Regions from separate parts of the Homo sapiens genome. Here region 1 is linked to region 2. Evidence: fine-mapped expression QTL. Tissue or cell type: whole blood. Region 2 holds a variant in brackets; the other region holds the start of a gene. All regions are shown on one strand. Distances are between the middles of the regions.

Region 1 (8,094 bases), 210 kb before region 2:
TTACTAATGTACTTGTTCTTCAGTAAATAGATTGGATAGTTTGTTACTTCCAGAGGAAGACAGTAACCACCAATAGACAGGAAAATGTACCTCTGGTTTACCAAACTTAGTCATAGTCACATTACAGAGTTAATTCTATAATGTTGTGAAAAACACCTGTGTCACAAAAATGTTAATGATCTCTTGACTGCATAGATGAGTTGCGTTCCGGAGTCTTAAGTTGCTTTCTAAATACTAATTAATTAAACCCAAGCTTTCTGTGTCAGGCGATTACTCACTTTTGTCCTTTCCTTAGTCTACCCAAGCTGAATTTCTGATAATATGGTAAGACAAGAATGAAACATAACCCAAAACATAAGCTTCCAGCCACGGTTCTGTGTGGAAATTGCAGCTTAGGAAGATTTTGTCACAATGAGATGGTAACCCCTGCTTCCCCCGGCCATACAGAGGATTGAAGATGTAAGTACCTGGGGGACGCCAGCCACAGTGTTTTACCACCTACTCTTCCAGTAGCTTTGGAAAAGGAAAAAAAAAAGTCACAGAATTGGGGCACACAGGGGAGAGTGCAGCATGAACAATTTTCCATTAATCTGATAAAGAGGGAGGTAGTCTAGGTGCAGCTCTGAGATGCATTTCTGCAGGGGAGCCACTCCCTGAGAGCTTTGTGTTTCCTTCCTGTTAGCGATCTCATGAATAAATAAACTCTCTGCCTGGCACCGATACCTCCAGCCTGCTCTGATTCAACACATTCCTTTGCTACTCTTTCCCACCCCAGTCAGATTTCCTGAAATCTCGAGCCCATTACACGTAAGTAATTAATTTTTCACTCATTAGAATTGGCTTGGAATTCAGTGAGACAGAAAAAAATAGGTGAGGTCCTGGAAGTTAGGGTAAATAATGGTGACGAATTACCCGTCAGCAGACAGTAAAGCAAGACCTAGAAACGGGTCCTCAAATACTAGCTGGCATGGTAATTAATTAATTGTTTAATTAGATACATGTAGCTGTCGCTCTGTGGAGCTCACAACACTGTTTTCGAGACTTGTCTAGGCAAAACTGTGGAGTAGCTCAAAAACGTGACTTTAATCCCTGATGGAAATTTCGGGGGTTTGGCAGAGCTTTTGAAGCCAACAGCCCTGGGAGTCTATTTGATTCATTCTAATAAACATCTATTGGGCACCTTCATTCCTGCCTGGGCAGACATTTGAACCAGGTTTTTACACTTAGGAACACGTAAGATGGCAAGGTGTTCACCAACCACACGTTCCGCAAGGCTGCTCACAGGTGGAGCAGAATGAGACCGAGGAAGGGGCTGCTCCTCTCCGCTCCTGTGCTGGTCTGCACTTCCAGACAGAGGCACTATGCTGTTTGTGGTGTCAGTCAACACAATGGGACAATTATAGATAAGCCAGCCACCAGACAAAACACACACATAAATGACCAATCCCAGGGAGAGCAGGTGGATAAAGAGGTGTGTAATTCCACAGGTGGGAGAGAATCTTTCTAACCAGGAGATTTGGGAAGGCTGCATGGAAGAAGTGGCGTTTGAACTTGGACTGGACTGGGTGAAATTCCGTGTGCGGCTATGACTCAGGTTGTGGGGAAGGGGAGACGACAGGAGGGAGCACATTAGAAAAACAGACACCACAGGTGGGGACTCTCCATGGACAGCTGGGAATTCTGCAGCTGAACCTCGGAGCTTGAAAGAGACGGGAGGAACAGAAAGCAGGAGAAATGTTTAGTGCAGGGCTCGTGAGACCATTGGTGTCAATTAAGGATTTCTTCAGTTTGCAGGCATAGAATCATGGGTTGTACAGCAAGGGGCCTGTGGTCTGTGCTAAGAGGGACTTTTTAGAAGAGTGATCTGACAGCCGTGGTGGGAAGACTGGAAGGAGGCTCTGAAGGCCTGACATGGGCCATAGCCAGAGGCCTCGACAGGAGCAGGTGGCGCACAAGAGAAATGCTGTGGGTAGAAGTTCTTGAGGGGACTCAAAGTGAAAGGGAGGCTGCTCTCAGAAATAATGTACATGGGGGAAAGTATTGGTAGGTAGGATGAGTTTGATTGTGGACAGCATGAATTTCAAGGAGATGGTAGGAGTTCCAGATAAAGATGATATCTATCAGGCTCCTGGAAATGGCAGTCTAAGACCGAGAGCCCACACTCACACGTGTAATGTGTAGGTGCCCAAAGACCTGCTGAAAGGAACCATCAGCTCAAAATCTGAGTTTGCAATTGATGTGTTTAATGCAAATTACAAGTTTTCTTTGCAACCAACATCAGTCATAGGATCATATGCAAATGATTAAGGCCCATCAAAAAGAATATATATATATATATATATATATATATATATGTATTTTTTTTTTTGAGACTGAATCTCGCTCTGTCACCCAGGCTGGAGTGCAGTGGTGCGATCTCGGTTCACTGTAACCTCCACCTCCCGGGTTCAAGTGATCCTCCTGCCTCAGCCTCCTGAGTAGCTGGGACTACAGGTGTGTGCCACCATGCCCAGCTAATTTTTTGTAGTTTTTAGTAGAGATGGGGTTTCACCATATTGACTAGGCTGGTCTTGAACTCCTGACCTCATGATCCACCTGCCTTGGCCTCCCAAAGTGTTGGGATTACAGGTGTGAGCCACCGTGCCTGGCCCGCGAATATATATTTTTTATTCCGACATTATACCGCCCTAAATGGACTTGACACCATTTATTGCTTGGAATGCACAGTGCATCTTTGCTGTAATGAAATGAACTCAGGGCTTTGCTTTGGAGACTGGGGTTTGAATCCTGGTTCTGCTCCCCTTTCTGTCTCTAAGGACTTTTATCTGTGACGTGTAGGGGCTGTGTGGGATCTTCCCCACGGCCCCTGCATTGCTGGTCGGTCTCTTTATCATGCAAAGGGGAGAGATGATGGTGGGGCCACATGCTTGTGCCACCCGTATCTGTTGCATTGAACGCAGTCTGGAGCGAAGGACGAACCCACGGCGCACACCAGGCGGAGGCACACGGCTCGGCGCAGGAAGCACACGGGTTTGGGGTTCCTGTTTCCCAGCTCATCGTCGAATGTCATTCTCACAATTCCCCACTGAAAGGACCGATCCTTACAGGAAATGCACACACCTCTGGCGGTTGCCACCACTGCTAGATCCATGGGAAGGGCAAAGGTGGGTGAGGCATGGGCTCTGTCCTCCAGGCGCTTACACTCACAAAGAATACAGAGAAGATAAAAAAGGTCAAACGTGATGAGGGCGGGAAGTGGCCGGTGCAGGAAGAGAAAGGAGAGAGATTGTTCTGGACCTGGGGTCAGGGATGGCTGTGGGTGGCAGGGGCAGAGAAGGGGCAGGCTCTCCGGGGTGGAGGCCGGGAGCAGAGGTGCTGCGGGTCAGCCGCGTTGTTTGCAGGAGCCGGAGTGTGGAGGCCGCAAGGCTGCCGTGCAGGTGGGTCCCGGCTGGTGGGGGCTCCGGTCGAAGCGGGGTGGGGGGGTGGTGGGGGGTAGGGGTAGGGGGGTGAGGTGGGGGACCTGTGTTCCTGCGGCCCACTCTGAAAGGGGAGTGAGTGCAGCTGGGCCTCCGGGAGCCAGCGCTGGCCAATGTCCCGTGGAGGACGGGGAGGCGAGGAGGTCTTTAGGAAGCTCTGGGCCTAAGGGAGGGGCCGGGCTGGGAAGAGGGGGTACAAGGATGAAAAGGAGGCCAGGTCGTCGGGGCTTTGTGCAACAGACTGGGGAGGATGTGTGGAGACAGAGGAAGGTGATGATGAAGACAACGGGGGCGGTTCTGAGAAGCAGAACTTCCAGTGACTAAGAGTCACTGGAAGCAGCTGGCTTCATTTAGGGTTTGTGGCGTTTGGGGTGTCTAGGGGCTTCCAGGGAAGTTTGCTCAGTGGACGGTTGGAGATGCGAGGGCCTCCCCAGATGGTCAGGACTAGAGGCACAGACGGGGCTTCAGCCTCGCCGAGGTGGCACTGAGGCTGGGAGCTGATGGCCCCACAAGGAGAAGGACGGTGGGAACCCTGGGGCCTGCAGCCTGTTCCGGGAGGGCTGGAGCCAGGCTTTTCGGGCCCACCTGGCATTTGGAGATTAGGTGACCCAACCTTGTCTTCCCATCCCCTTTTCACAGATGGGGACACTGACCCTCCAGGCAAAGGCTCAGAGTCGCTCAAGGTCATCTGCTGGTCGTTGCATTCGAAACTTCCAGCCTAGCGCTCCGTCTCCGCCTCTTAAAATGTTCATTAACAAAAAACCAGCCCTCCAAGACCCGGGGCACTGCGAGTTTTCGCGCAGACGTCAAGCTGCGGCTCCAGGACGTGATTTTCGCAGGGAGCCGGGTGGACCAGGCTCTGGGGCCGGGCCCGCAGGCTCCGCTGGACGCGCAGAGCCCAGGACAGACAAGACCGCCCCGCCCCGCCCCGCCCCGCGGGCCCCGAGCCCCCAACCCGCCCCCGAGCGCGCCCCCGGGAGCGCGCGCTTCGCCGACGCGGCCGCGCGCCCCCCCGCGCGCTCCCGCTCCTGCGCGTCCTCGCGCCCCGCGCGCGCGCGCCCTGCCCCCGCGGCCCCGTGACGCGCGCGCGCAGAGACGCTCCCGCCGGGCCGGGGCCGAGAGCAGCAGGGCCGGGTCCGGGTCCGCAGCGCCTGCGGGGAGGGGCCGAGCGCGCGCGGGGCGGGCCGGGGACCGTGGGGCGCGGGGGCGCGCGAGGCGGCCGTGGCGGGGCCGCGCTGAGGAGGCGCCGAGGGGAGGGAGGTCCCTGCGCGCCCGCCGCCCGCCTCCCGCGCCCGCGCCGCCGCCTCCTCCTCGGTGCGGTTCCGCCGGGCGCGAGGAGCCGCCGAGACCTCCGCCTGCGAACAAAGAGGAGGCCGTGCGGGGCGCGGCGCCCGCGGAGCATGGCGGACCGCAGCCTGGAGGGCATGGCGCTGCCCCTGGAGGTGCGGGCGCGCCTGGCCGAGCTGGAGCTGGAGCTGTCGGAAGGTAACCGGGCCCCCGCCCCGGGCCGGGCCGCGCTGTCACCGGGGAGGGCCGCGCGCGGAGGGCTGGGGGCGCGGGGCCTGCGGCGGGGCGGGGGCCGGGCCCGGAGGGGGAGGTGCGACCCCAGCCCGGAGCGTGCGCGTCCCCCGGACCCCCAGACCCCGCGCCCTAGGGACGTTTGTGAGGCCGCGATCCCCCGCGCTCTGGGGACGTTTGTGGGGCCGCGATTCCCCGCGCCCTGGGGGTGTCTGTGGGGCCTGGGATCCCCTCGCGCTCTGGGGGTGTTTGTGGGGCCGCGATCCCCCGCGCCCTGGGATGTTTGTGGGGCCGCGATCCCCCCGCGCCCTGGGGGTGTCTGTGGGGCCTGGGCGCCGCGCGGGGACGCAGGATGCAGCGGGCCCGGCGGGATCGGCCTTCCCGTGCGCTCTGCGCTGGAGCCGCGGCGTCCTTGGTGCAGCAGCGCGGTGCGCGCCACCTCCTCGCTGGCGGGTTCGGCCTGGAACGCCCGGCCAGATTTCAATGCGAAACTTGTCGTTGGACCCCGGGTTCGATCTCTGGTGGCTCAGGCCGTGCAGCGGTCCTGGCGCGGCCCGGGGGATCCCACCCCCATTGTTCGCGGGCGCTGCGCGGGGAGGGCTGGGCGGAATCGTCAACCTCCCCCCGGGCCGGGCTCCGGCCTTGCCGTCCTGGTCCTCTCGTAGGAGGGTTTGTGGCAGATCAGCCACCGCGGTCTTATGGAGGGTTGTGTACGCCTCTTATTTGCTCTTCATGGCGGAGATCATGTGCTCAACTGTCATAAGTTTCAGATCGGGCTTTGCCAGGTCTTTTCCCCAAAACCACTGAAGTTCCCAAATCTGAAATGTTTGATGTGCATTTAGCCGTCTCTGGGCTCATCCTGGTCAGGCCATTCCTGTAACGTGGGGTGGGGTGGGGGTGGGCCGGCGCGTCTCACATTTATATTTGGAGCAGTTTAGCATGGTGAACTTTTTTTGGGTAACGGTTTTGTGAGGGCCGGCAGCCAGAAAGTAAACTCATTCGTGCCAATTTTCACCGGCAGGGAGGAGCTGGTGTTGACTTTATGTTTTCCTTTTTAACACTTTCAGGGCAAAGAAGGGAGTGAGCAGGGGCCATGGTGTGCAGCCAACTGCCTTTCCAGACTTCTGGGGACGGGAAATGGTACTGTTTTTCAGTTTCAGATGTGGGGTTCCGCGAGGTGTGTCAGTGTCCTGTAACGTGACACAGTTGGCGGGGGGCAGAGTCTTCCAGGCCTGTGGGCTTGGCTGCTGCCCTCCTGAGGAGCTGAGGATGAGGAGGGCATGGCTAGGAGGCGGGAGCTGCCGTGTGCAGGGTTCGGATGTAAACTGGTAAGTAGATTGTGCAGTGCAGACAGCTCGTTTGGTGGGTAAGGAGTGTATCATTTGCAAAAGGCCCACCCTGGTTATCTGATTGTGTCAGCCTTGGGTAGGTTTCCCGGCTTGCGTCTCGGCCCAGGTGCACCCCTGCCTGCAGCACCCTCCGTGTTCGCTGTCTCAGGACAGGGGCTTCTGTGCTGCCTGCATCACACTGATGTGAAGTGTCAGTGCCCCATCCAGGTCAGCAGAGCGTAGCGCCCCTGAGCTCAGCAGGGCGAGCCCCATCTGAGGGTTCCCCCACCCACTGCTAGCCCAGAAGTTGGACCCACATTTGTTCCCAGAGTCTGGGATGTCTATGGGAATGGGTGTCCTGTGTTGGGCATTGTGGCCTTTTGAGGTGACGACACTTGCCTGTCAGTTGCTCTTGGAGGGTGAGTGATACTGTCTTGCTGCCCAGATGATGGCAAAGCCACTTTCGACGAAGGTGTGCTCAGCCGAATTCCCTGTGAACACCTTGCGTCTGTACAGGTTTTTTAAAAAGGGCTTAATGAGTTAGTTTCTTATTGAGAGACCAGGCAGAGAAAGGGGTGTGTGTGTTTGCATGCAGGAAGCCTAATTATATTTTTCCTTCCACATGAATCTTGCTGAGATCTGAGCTACACATTTAAGAAGAAAGGGTGAGAGGGTTGCTCCGTGGCTCTATTCAGCCTCTCTGCACCCTCCGGCCTGTGCTGGCCCCACTGCCTCATCTGTTTGCTGGATGGTCTTTAACTTTGCTGTGAAGTGTGGGTTTGCCCAGGTTGAGTTTATGGGGGTAGTGCTGTAAGGTCATTTGGAATTCTCTGTCTCATAACCACATAAAACAGTTTTACAGGCTTAAATTAGATGAATCAACTTGTTTTCCAGTATTGCTTAATAGAAATCCAAGAATTGAAGGATCAAAATTCTGTGTTTCTTTATGTTATTGGACTTCAAAAATTCCTCAATGTATCTGCTTTCAGAGTGAAAGCTGAAAACAGCTGTTAATGCTGAATTATTTCCCATCTTCAATCAAAATTCAAGTGGAGAGAATTCTTTAAGTTGGTTGTCATCATTTTATTAAAATATCAGAAAATATTATAGAAACATATGTGGAATTTCCAGTGCTCATTTCCTACAGAGGAGGATGGAAAAAGTTCCGTTTTAAGCACATAACATAGACTGAAGGAAAGAGTAGAGCATTCCCCTGAGGTTCCTGTGTGGGCTGCCAGCCTGCGTGGGTTACGCATTGTGTGGGTTTCTAGACCCTGGTCCAGTTCTGCTGTGCCCGCCTGCTGGGCGCCATTACATGCACTGCTGGTGTCCTGCTTTGCAGGGCTGCAGGGGCACTTCCTGCTGCGGGGCCGAGGGCTCCATCCTTCTTCCACTGCCTGTCCCTGTCCCGTGCCCTGTGCCCCCTCACAGGGGAAGGTGAGGCCAGCTCACACCACAGAGCATGCGGCCAGCAAAACACAAGGGCTCTCTGTGGGGAGAAGTGCTGGGCAGCCCTCTTGTGGGAGCTGATGGCCTCGAATCCATGTGGGGATACATTCAGGTTGTGTGGCCAGGGGGGTCATCTCCTCACATACTTGGGTCTGAGTGTGAGCCAGGGAGGAGGCCATGCAGGTAAGGAGGCCACACGGTCAGGAGGCTGTGTGGGTGGGGAGGTTGTGCGGGTGGGGAGGCTGTGTGGGTGCGGAGGCTGTGCAGGTGGGGAGGCCATGAGGGTGCGGAGGCCCCTCGGGTGAGGAGGCTGTGCAGGTGGG
Region 2 (8,105 bases):
ACTTAGTTCCCAGACCCTGGTTTGGGGGAAAATGCGGGGCATGGAAGTTACTCAGTGCTGCCACCCTTTCCCACCTCCTAGGTTTTGAGAGATGATAGTAACCTAGGATTTATTAAAGTCTTGTCTGGAAATTTTCTTTGCTGATTGACTGGGGGCTCGATTTAAATCAAGCACGTGCACATGTGGCTGCTTCTGTGGTTCAGATTTTGGACATTGTTTGTAAAACGGGTTAACAAGGCATTTCCAAAAGCAACTGAGCGTCTCCGTAGTGGGCAGCTGATGGCTGCCGGTGTGGAGTGCCCGGCAAGCTTTAACATTTCTGCAGAAATTGTCCTTTGTTGTCAGTGGCCAGCTACCTAGTTAGCATCGGCTGGGCACGGTGGCTCACGCCTGTAATCTCAGCACTTTGGGAGGCTGAAGTGGCAGATCATGAGGTCAGGAGATGGAGATCATCCTGGCTAACATGGTGAAACCCTGTCTCTACTAAAAATACAAAAAATTAGCCGGGCGTGGTGGCCAGCGCCTGTAGTCTCAGCTACTCGGGAGGCTGAGGTAGGAGAATGGTGTGAACCCAGGAGGCGGAGCTTGCAGTGAGCTGAGATCACGCCACTGCACTCCAGCCTGGGCGACAGAGAGAGACTGTCTCAAAAAAAAAAAAAAAAAAAAAAAAAAAAAACACTCATTGATGGGCGGATGCGGGTTCCGTGTCATTTGGTTCTTGGCTCCGTGTTGAGACGTCAGCCTTGTGTTCCGTGGGGGAGACGAGAACCTGTATCATGAGCTGTGAGTTGGTGGAGGCAGCCGTGGAGGCAGAGGCAGCATCCGAGACTGCCCGCCTTTCACTAGGAAAAGTGAGTTGACCAGCTTGTGTGTGTACCTTGATAACTTTTCATTCATTTGCTATATTTTTGTTAAAGCTTGAATTTTTCACTCTTCTTGGAATTATGGTTTGATCAGTCTTAGAAAACAATACAACAGATCCAAAAAAATGAACAGCGAATGAGTATTCTGTGTGTGCTGGAGCTTGTGAATGGGAAGGGCCTCTGTGTGTCGATGAGGTGGCTTTGTCCTGTGTGCTTGCGCTGGCTCCAGGAAAGGCATGGCTGCTGCGCGTCCGTGGCTGTCTGTGAGCTTTAACATGTGGATTCTTGCCTCACCACAAGCACCTTTCTCTTGTCTTCTGGATTTCTGCAGGTTTCACACCTTTTGCTTCTTCCCTTAGCCTTTGTCACTCCTTTTTCAAAAACACTGTGGCGGCTTCAAGTCCTTGTGACCGACCTGCTTGGTTAGAAAACATCTTGTTAATGAAGAAGATGCCAATAGGTGCTGGTGTCGGCCATCCCGGCCCTGGCAGCTGCAGGATCTGTCGTTGACTGAGTTAACGAGAGCCCCGGCCACCAGGCTTGGCTTCCTGTGCCAGCGGGTGGGGATGAGATGGCAGGGGTCTAACCCTGGACCCCATCCGGATAAATACAGAAGGGGCCAGAAACAGGCGTGTGTTTAACAAATGAGTTTTAGTGACTTACATGCTGTGGGCTTTTGTTCGAGAGCAGGGGAGGAACTGAAGTTGTTTGATGTGCAGTGCTTGCTTTTAAAATTCTAACAATGAGGCACACAGAAGATACTGTGATAACTGTGTCTTCTTGGGCACCGTTGAATGATAATGCTCTATCCACGGAGACCATACTGAACTTCATTTTCCTTCTCTTGCAGGTGACATCACACAAAAAGGATATGAAAAGAAGAGGTCAAAGTTAATTGGAGCCTACCTTCCGCAGCCTCCGAGTAGGTAACCCCCATGAGTAGCATGAGTCCTCTCATTTCCCGCATTCACTATGTGCCAGAGAAACATCTGGAGGCAGACGCTCCCTTGCTTCCCAGTCGGCAGGAGGAGGCGTCTGGCGTTCACCCTCCAGGCATTCAGTTCCTTTGAGTGATCACACGTGCTGTGTGAATATACAAGGCACAGAGGATTTTTCTATAAGTGTGCCTAATAGGTGTTTTCTCTATAAGTAGAGATCGGTATTGGGTTGGTTACTTTAAAATGCTATAATCGTAAAAATATGAGTGCATTAGTGATTTCAACATATTTGGTTTAGAGAGCTATTTATTACTATTGATTCTGGTTTAATCCAAGGCTTCTGTTGGTGGCACAGGCCAAATCTAGACAGTGCTGTGATACCCCGCCCAGGACTTGGCAATCGTGAAAGCTGGTTGTGTGTTGAGATGTGGTTGCAAACATCCATGATGATTCTTGAGAAGGGCAGTCGGTTTCCCGCCAGCGTTTCTACGTGTGCAGATTGGCAGCTTTCCTGCACTTGAGCTGGGTTCTGTAAATGTCAGGAAAAAGAATCTCATATTAGATGGGGATTCTAGCACCTCAGTTCCCAGCTGGCAAGCTCAATTCAGCCCAAGAGCGACCTTGAAAATTTGGTAGGCTTGAGGAATGGCTTAAAGCTAACACAAGCAGTTTCTTCCTCAAACATAAAGGCTAGCAACATAAATTTTAAAGGTGGAAATTGAACTTGCATAGTTCTTACCATTGAAAGAAGATTTTAGAAGGTTTAAGGATGCACATGTCCACACCTGCACAAACCCCGATTCTGTTCTTCCCGAGGCCCGTCCGGGTCCTGTTGACTCAGTAAGGAAAGTTTCCTGAGGCTCAGGCTGCAGGAAACGGTGTGGAGATTCTGCTATTGGTAGTTTTGTTTTCATTTCGTGTTTTTCTTGCCTTGATTTTTGAGACAGTGATGTAACAGTGAACATGTTTCTGTGGACCTTGCTTAGCAGAGGCTTAAGTCAGGGATAGACGCCGAGGAACCCGAGAGAAGGGGAGCAGAGGGCTGGGCTGGAATGCTGGGGCGAGAGGCTTCAGGGCAGTGCTGGGTAGATCCCCTGATGGCCTGCGCCCCCTCCCTCATTCTCTTCTCGCAGAGCCATGGGGCGACAGCTGCCCCCGCCCTGTCCCTGTGAGTTCCCCTCTGCAGGTGCCCTCATGTGCTGCAGAAGGTGGGGTCTGACTGTAGGCCACGGACGCTGTTGGTTTTAACTTTCTTGCCTTGCCAAACAAAAGTGAAACAGAAGCGGTTCCTCGCTTGCCAGGACGGTTCTCCAGCGCACCGTGCCTCCCGCGGTGGCCCTGGCCTTAGCCGGGCGCAGAGGGCGGTCGTGCCCTGTGGTCCCCTTGGTGGTCTGTGTGCTGTCCTGCATGGGGTCGGCAGCTCTGCTCAGCGCTGTAACAAATTTAAAAAAAACTAAAGTTTGAATTAATTAGTTTTTTTTCAACTTGTTACAGCAGCGAATGGAGCTGCCGTGGTTCGGTGTAGACTGCAGCACAGTGAAGGAGCGCCGAGGAGAACATTCCGCTCTGCCCACATCGGGGTGTGCGACGTCCGAGAAGCTGCGGCT[C/T]GGGAGCGGGTGGCCAGCACCGCAGGGAACCGGCCTCTGTTTTACTTTCGTTTCGGTGAGCGCTGCTTTGCTGAGAGCCAGCCCCACAGCAGGGTACACATTAGAAAAGGGCCACCCGCCGAGTGCCATCCCGTACAGACGTGTAGGGTGTGGCCTTGGGGGCCTGAGGGTCCCATTCTCCAGTGAGCCAGGTCGCTCCACAGGCCCAGAGCTCGCCAGAGACCAGGTCTGTCCCTGTGAATCAGGGCCCAGTTCTGCGTTTCCTATTGAAGTAGAACGTTGCTTTTACAATTCCCCTTTCTCAGTTGGGCACCACTTAGAAAACACTTAAGAAGAATGCGTGACAAATTATAAAACTTCTTAAAGCCACTGGTATTCTACAGACTTTCATCTTATAGCCAAAGACCCAATTAAAGGATGAGCTGATGGGTCTTGGCCTCTGAGATCTGCTAGAAGGAGTGATTTTGAGATTTCCATCTCCAAAGAGCAAAGTAAGGGTTTTTGAAATAGAAAAAGCAGTTAATCATAGAGTATGTTCTTAGAGGTAAGGATTCTGTTCAAAGGTAAGAATTACTTTGGCGGACAGTATTTTGAATACAGGAATTTCATGATGCAAAAAGGGAGTTCAGTGCATTTTCCACCAGAATGAAGAAAATCATATGCAGGTGGAAGTTTTAGGTTCGTGTTCAGGGTTACACTTCAAAATGTGTTTTAAAATCACATACAAGGCCGGGGGTGGTGGCTCACGCCTGTGATCCCAGCACTTGGGGAGGCTGAGGAAGGGGATTGCTTAGGTCCAGGTGTTTCAGACCAGCCTGGGCAACAAAGGGAGTCCCCGTCTCTACAAAAGAAAAAATTAGGCATGATGGTGGGTGCCTGTGATCCCAGCTATATGGGAGGCTGAAGCAGGAGGATTGCTTGAATCCAAGAAGTCAAGGCTGCAGTGAGCTATGATTGTGGCACTGTGTTCCAGCCTGGGGGACAGAGCGAGACCCTGTCTCAAAAAAAAAAAATTGGTAAAATGAAGTCATAGAGGCAAACTTTATTATTACAGTTGGCCACTGGGGTCTCAGAAGAGGACACCCCGCCTCGCCTCCTGGCCTCCACTGCGTTCCTCCTCTCTGGGCCCTCTCAGGAGCCCTCTCTGGGCTGATTCCCTCGCACCCTCTCAGGAGCAAGGGGCAGAGCTGATGAGAAGGCGACAGGGCTGGGTTTTAGCCACGAGGTCCATTTCAGAATTTATCTGCCGGAAACGTGAGGAAAACAGGAGAAGGACGGCCCGGGCCGCCTGATTGAGGCCCAGACACCAGACTCAGGATGGGGGGACTCCGGACAGCGGTGCTAGGGCCCCAGCGAGGCTGTTTCCCTGCCGACCTTCATTTGGAGACGTTGCTTGTGACACGCAAGTGTGCACCATGTGCAGCTGTCCTGGGAAGCAGCAAGGAACGCAGACGTTTCCAAAGCCGAGGCTGCTTTCTTGGTTGGCCCCATGGGACGTGACTTCCTTTGTGCAGGATCTTCGTGGAAAACATCTTTCTTTCTTGTTCCCCTGTGCTGCTGCGCACTTGCCTGTAAGGGGTTTGTGTTCTGATTAACTTCCACCCTTTTTTCCTAACATTTACATTCCTATTCCTCCAGAAACTATTCTAAAAGTGTTTCTAGGATGTTGTTTGGGATGCAGAATTACGAGCTACAATGGGGGTTCTGTTCCCTAGGCCAGCCAGGCACGTCCCAGCTGCTCAGGAGGGCAGCGTCTGTCGGGGCCTCCAGTCGGGATTCAGAAGTGAGCGTTGGTGCTGAGCACCTGCCTAAATCTAGTTGAGGAAAAGACTGTCCGGAGCCAGGAAGAAATGTGAGTTATACATGCAGTGAAAGAAGGGTCAGAGAGGGTGCCTGGAAGATCATCTTCAGGGAGAAGACGCTGCTTAGGGAAGCTGCCCACTTCGCTCTCACCCTTCTGCGGTTCAAACCCATCCCTCATCAGTCTCTAAGCCCAGTCAAAGTTGTAAACCTAGGAAATAAAATCCACTGCCTGGCAGCCTCTTCAGAGAGATCTTAATAACAGTGTCGACTTGGATAACAAGGCCTCACTGCTTGTATGACACAGGCCGTGGAGATTTAGAGAGTAAAATTTCAGTGTGGCTATAAATGGTGGAACCTTCTTTGCTCAGATACAGCTCCTCTTTCTCACAGCAACTTCTTATGTGTTTGTCTGTGAAATGTTTCTTGGTATTGAGTGATTTATGAAGATCTGGTATTCCTCTCCAAGCCCAGCTTGCTTTTCCTTCAATAGCCGGACAGCTTGATGCCCAGGTGCAAGTTACAAGGACTCTGTAAGGGGGTTTGTCTGTGCGGCACAGCCTCTCTCCATGAGGTCACGTGAGCGGCCTCTCCAGGGAAGAGGTATCCGTGGTCAGTGTGAGTTAAGCCCCACACTTTTTCCATCATGGGGTCGCGTGAGCAGCCTCTCCAGGAAGAGGCCTCCCATGGTCAGTGTGAGTTAAGCTCTACACTGTCTGCACCGGAGGCCTCTGGCCTGCAGGCTTGCACTGTGCTGTCCAACTGTTGAGTCAAATCACAAATACGGACTTGTCTCAGTTCCTCCCTGCTACCAGGGCTCCCGATGGCCACGCCGCTGTCCCTCCCGACAGCCATGCCGCTGCATCCACATGAGGAACTCTGCTCAGGCCGTGCACTTGGCCGTGTCCAGGTGGCATTTAAAGCTCAGTTTGGATGCTCTGTCCTGAGGGATTTCTCCCCTGATCCTTCAGTCAGACCATCCGGATTCCCATCTCCATGTCGTCCTGTCTCTGAAATACCACTGTCATAGTTGGGTGGTGGTTACTAAACGCTAAGTCTCCACCCCAACCCCCAGCAGCAGTATGTAAATCACCTGAGGCCCCGGCTGCCTGCTCACGGAAAGTGGACATTGGGCAGGTATTTGCTGTATGGATGTGTGGGTGCGGCACGGAGGGGCTGAGTCTGCCTGTGGGGGTGGGCCGGGGCAGCCCTCACTTCCCCCCGCCCCACTGAGTGACCGTCCCTACCGTGGTACGAGGATGGATGTGCAGTGTCCCTGAGGGCAGACGCCACCGTGTCCGCATGATGCTCAGATCCACGTGAAGCCCTGAACAGGCACCGGAGACCTTCCACTGCCTCAGGTGTCTATCTGGGCTGCAGTTTTATTTTTATTCTTGATTTGGGTAAATTTAAATGGCAGATGGTAACATGTAAGGGCTAATTAATGACTGAAATGACAGAGGGTAACATGTACCTCAGCACCATCCAATCAGTGGAATTTTATTATCTTTTCAGAACTTGGCTCCCATCCCAGTGTTTGATCCTGTGACTGGATCACATGTTCTCATGAGAACAGCTGCTCTGGCCTGAGTGCTGTTGCTTGCAGTGGCTGCCTTGCCCTGTCGCCACGGAGAGGGCTTCCTCTGAGGTCCCGTTGCAGATTCTCCCACTGGGCTTTGACAGTTGTGAGGGAGGAGGTCCCTGCAGTTGGCATTTGTGAATTTTGCACTTTGGTTACATACGGAATGAGAAAGTTTCTTAAGTACGTAAATGCCATTTTGTTCTGTCGTCTTTAGAAGACGTGGCTGGCTGGCCCTGGCCTGTTCACCTGGGCTGGCCGTTGGTTGTTCTGATTCCTCGTGTCAGCAGAGGCTGTGCTTTCCCGGGGCAGGTGCGCAGTGGGTCCGTATTCTTGTTGTGCCATGAGAGTTACAGTCTGGTGACCCCAAGGCAGCGCTTCCTAGACGTGCTGGGGAGGGACCGCCTCCTCACCTGGGCTGGAGGGTCCCGGGGACCTGTCCCGGGCAGGTTGCCTCCACTTAGGGTCTCAGGCCATGTGGCAGCTCACAGGGTAAGGGTGTTTTAAACTTAAATCCCAGAGGAGGGGAAACGTGGGTGTCCAGATGGCATTGCCTGTGACATAGCGTGAATCTTTCTAGACCGCGTTGCTGTAGTGACAGGTGAATCACCTGTGTTCCAGATCAGCCGTGCTCCCGTCGGCACTTCACAGGGTACCACGCTTAGCTGCCGGAGACGTGTTCTGCCACAGGGAGCTGTCAGTTTGATCCCGTACGTTTATTTCCTGGTCTTTTCAGCAACATTTAATGAATCGCATTCCTCGTCTTAGGCGCCAGCCGCTATGGAGGGAGTGCAGCTGAGCCTACGCCATGCGGTGTGTCTCCAGTGGGGAGGGTAGCACCCACTTTGGAACTGCTCACGTGGGTTTTGTGAAAAATCCGAGGTGTAAGCAAAGTGCAGAAACGTGAAGGCCCGGTCCTGATGGTGAGATTGGCATCTCATCCAAGGAGCGTGGACTGGAGCTCGGGCTGGTAGATGAGACCGTCATCCAGTGAGCATGGACCAGGGCTCAGGCTGGCGGGTGAGACTCATCCAGTGAGCGTGGACTGGGGCTCAGGCTGGTGGATGAGTCTTATCCAGTGAGCATGGACCGGAGCTCAGGCTGGTGGATGAGACCCTCATCCAGTGAGCATGGACCGGAGCTCAGGCTGGTGGATGAGTCTTATCCAGTGAGCATGGACCCCGGAGCTCAGGCTGGTGGATGAGACCCTCATCCAGTGAGCATGGACCGGAGCTCAGGCTGGTGGATGAGACCCTCATCCAGTGAGCATGGACCGGGGCTCAGGCTGGCGGGTGAGACTCATCCAGTGAGTATGGAC

The links. PIP is the estimated chance that this variant, and not a neighbour inherited with it, causes the effect.
Region 1: it holds the start of DIP2C, and the variant in region 2 is fine-mapped to the expression of DIP2C in whole blood (TOPMed, PIP above 0.99).

The regions. Positions count from the first base shown.
Region 1 is chr10:686,361-694,454 of GRCh38, reverse strand. DIP2C (disco interacting protein 2 homolog C) reads left to right here and starts at 4,787. Exons shown (of 37, transcript NM_014974.3): 1 at 4,787-4,961. The coding sequence starts at 4,877. RefSeq lists an enhancer at 3,477-4,412.
Region 2 is chr10:480,139-488,243 of GRCh38, reverse strand. DIP2C (disco interacting protein 2 homolog C) reads left to right here. Exons shown (of 37, transcript NM_014974.3): 2 at 1,714-1,785. Among named protein-coding and RNA genes, the nearest start is that of DIP2C-AS2, 140 kb to the left of the region's middle. The variant C/T (reference allele first, on the strand shown) is at 3,409.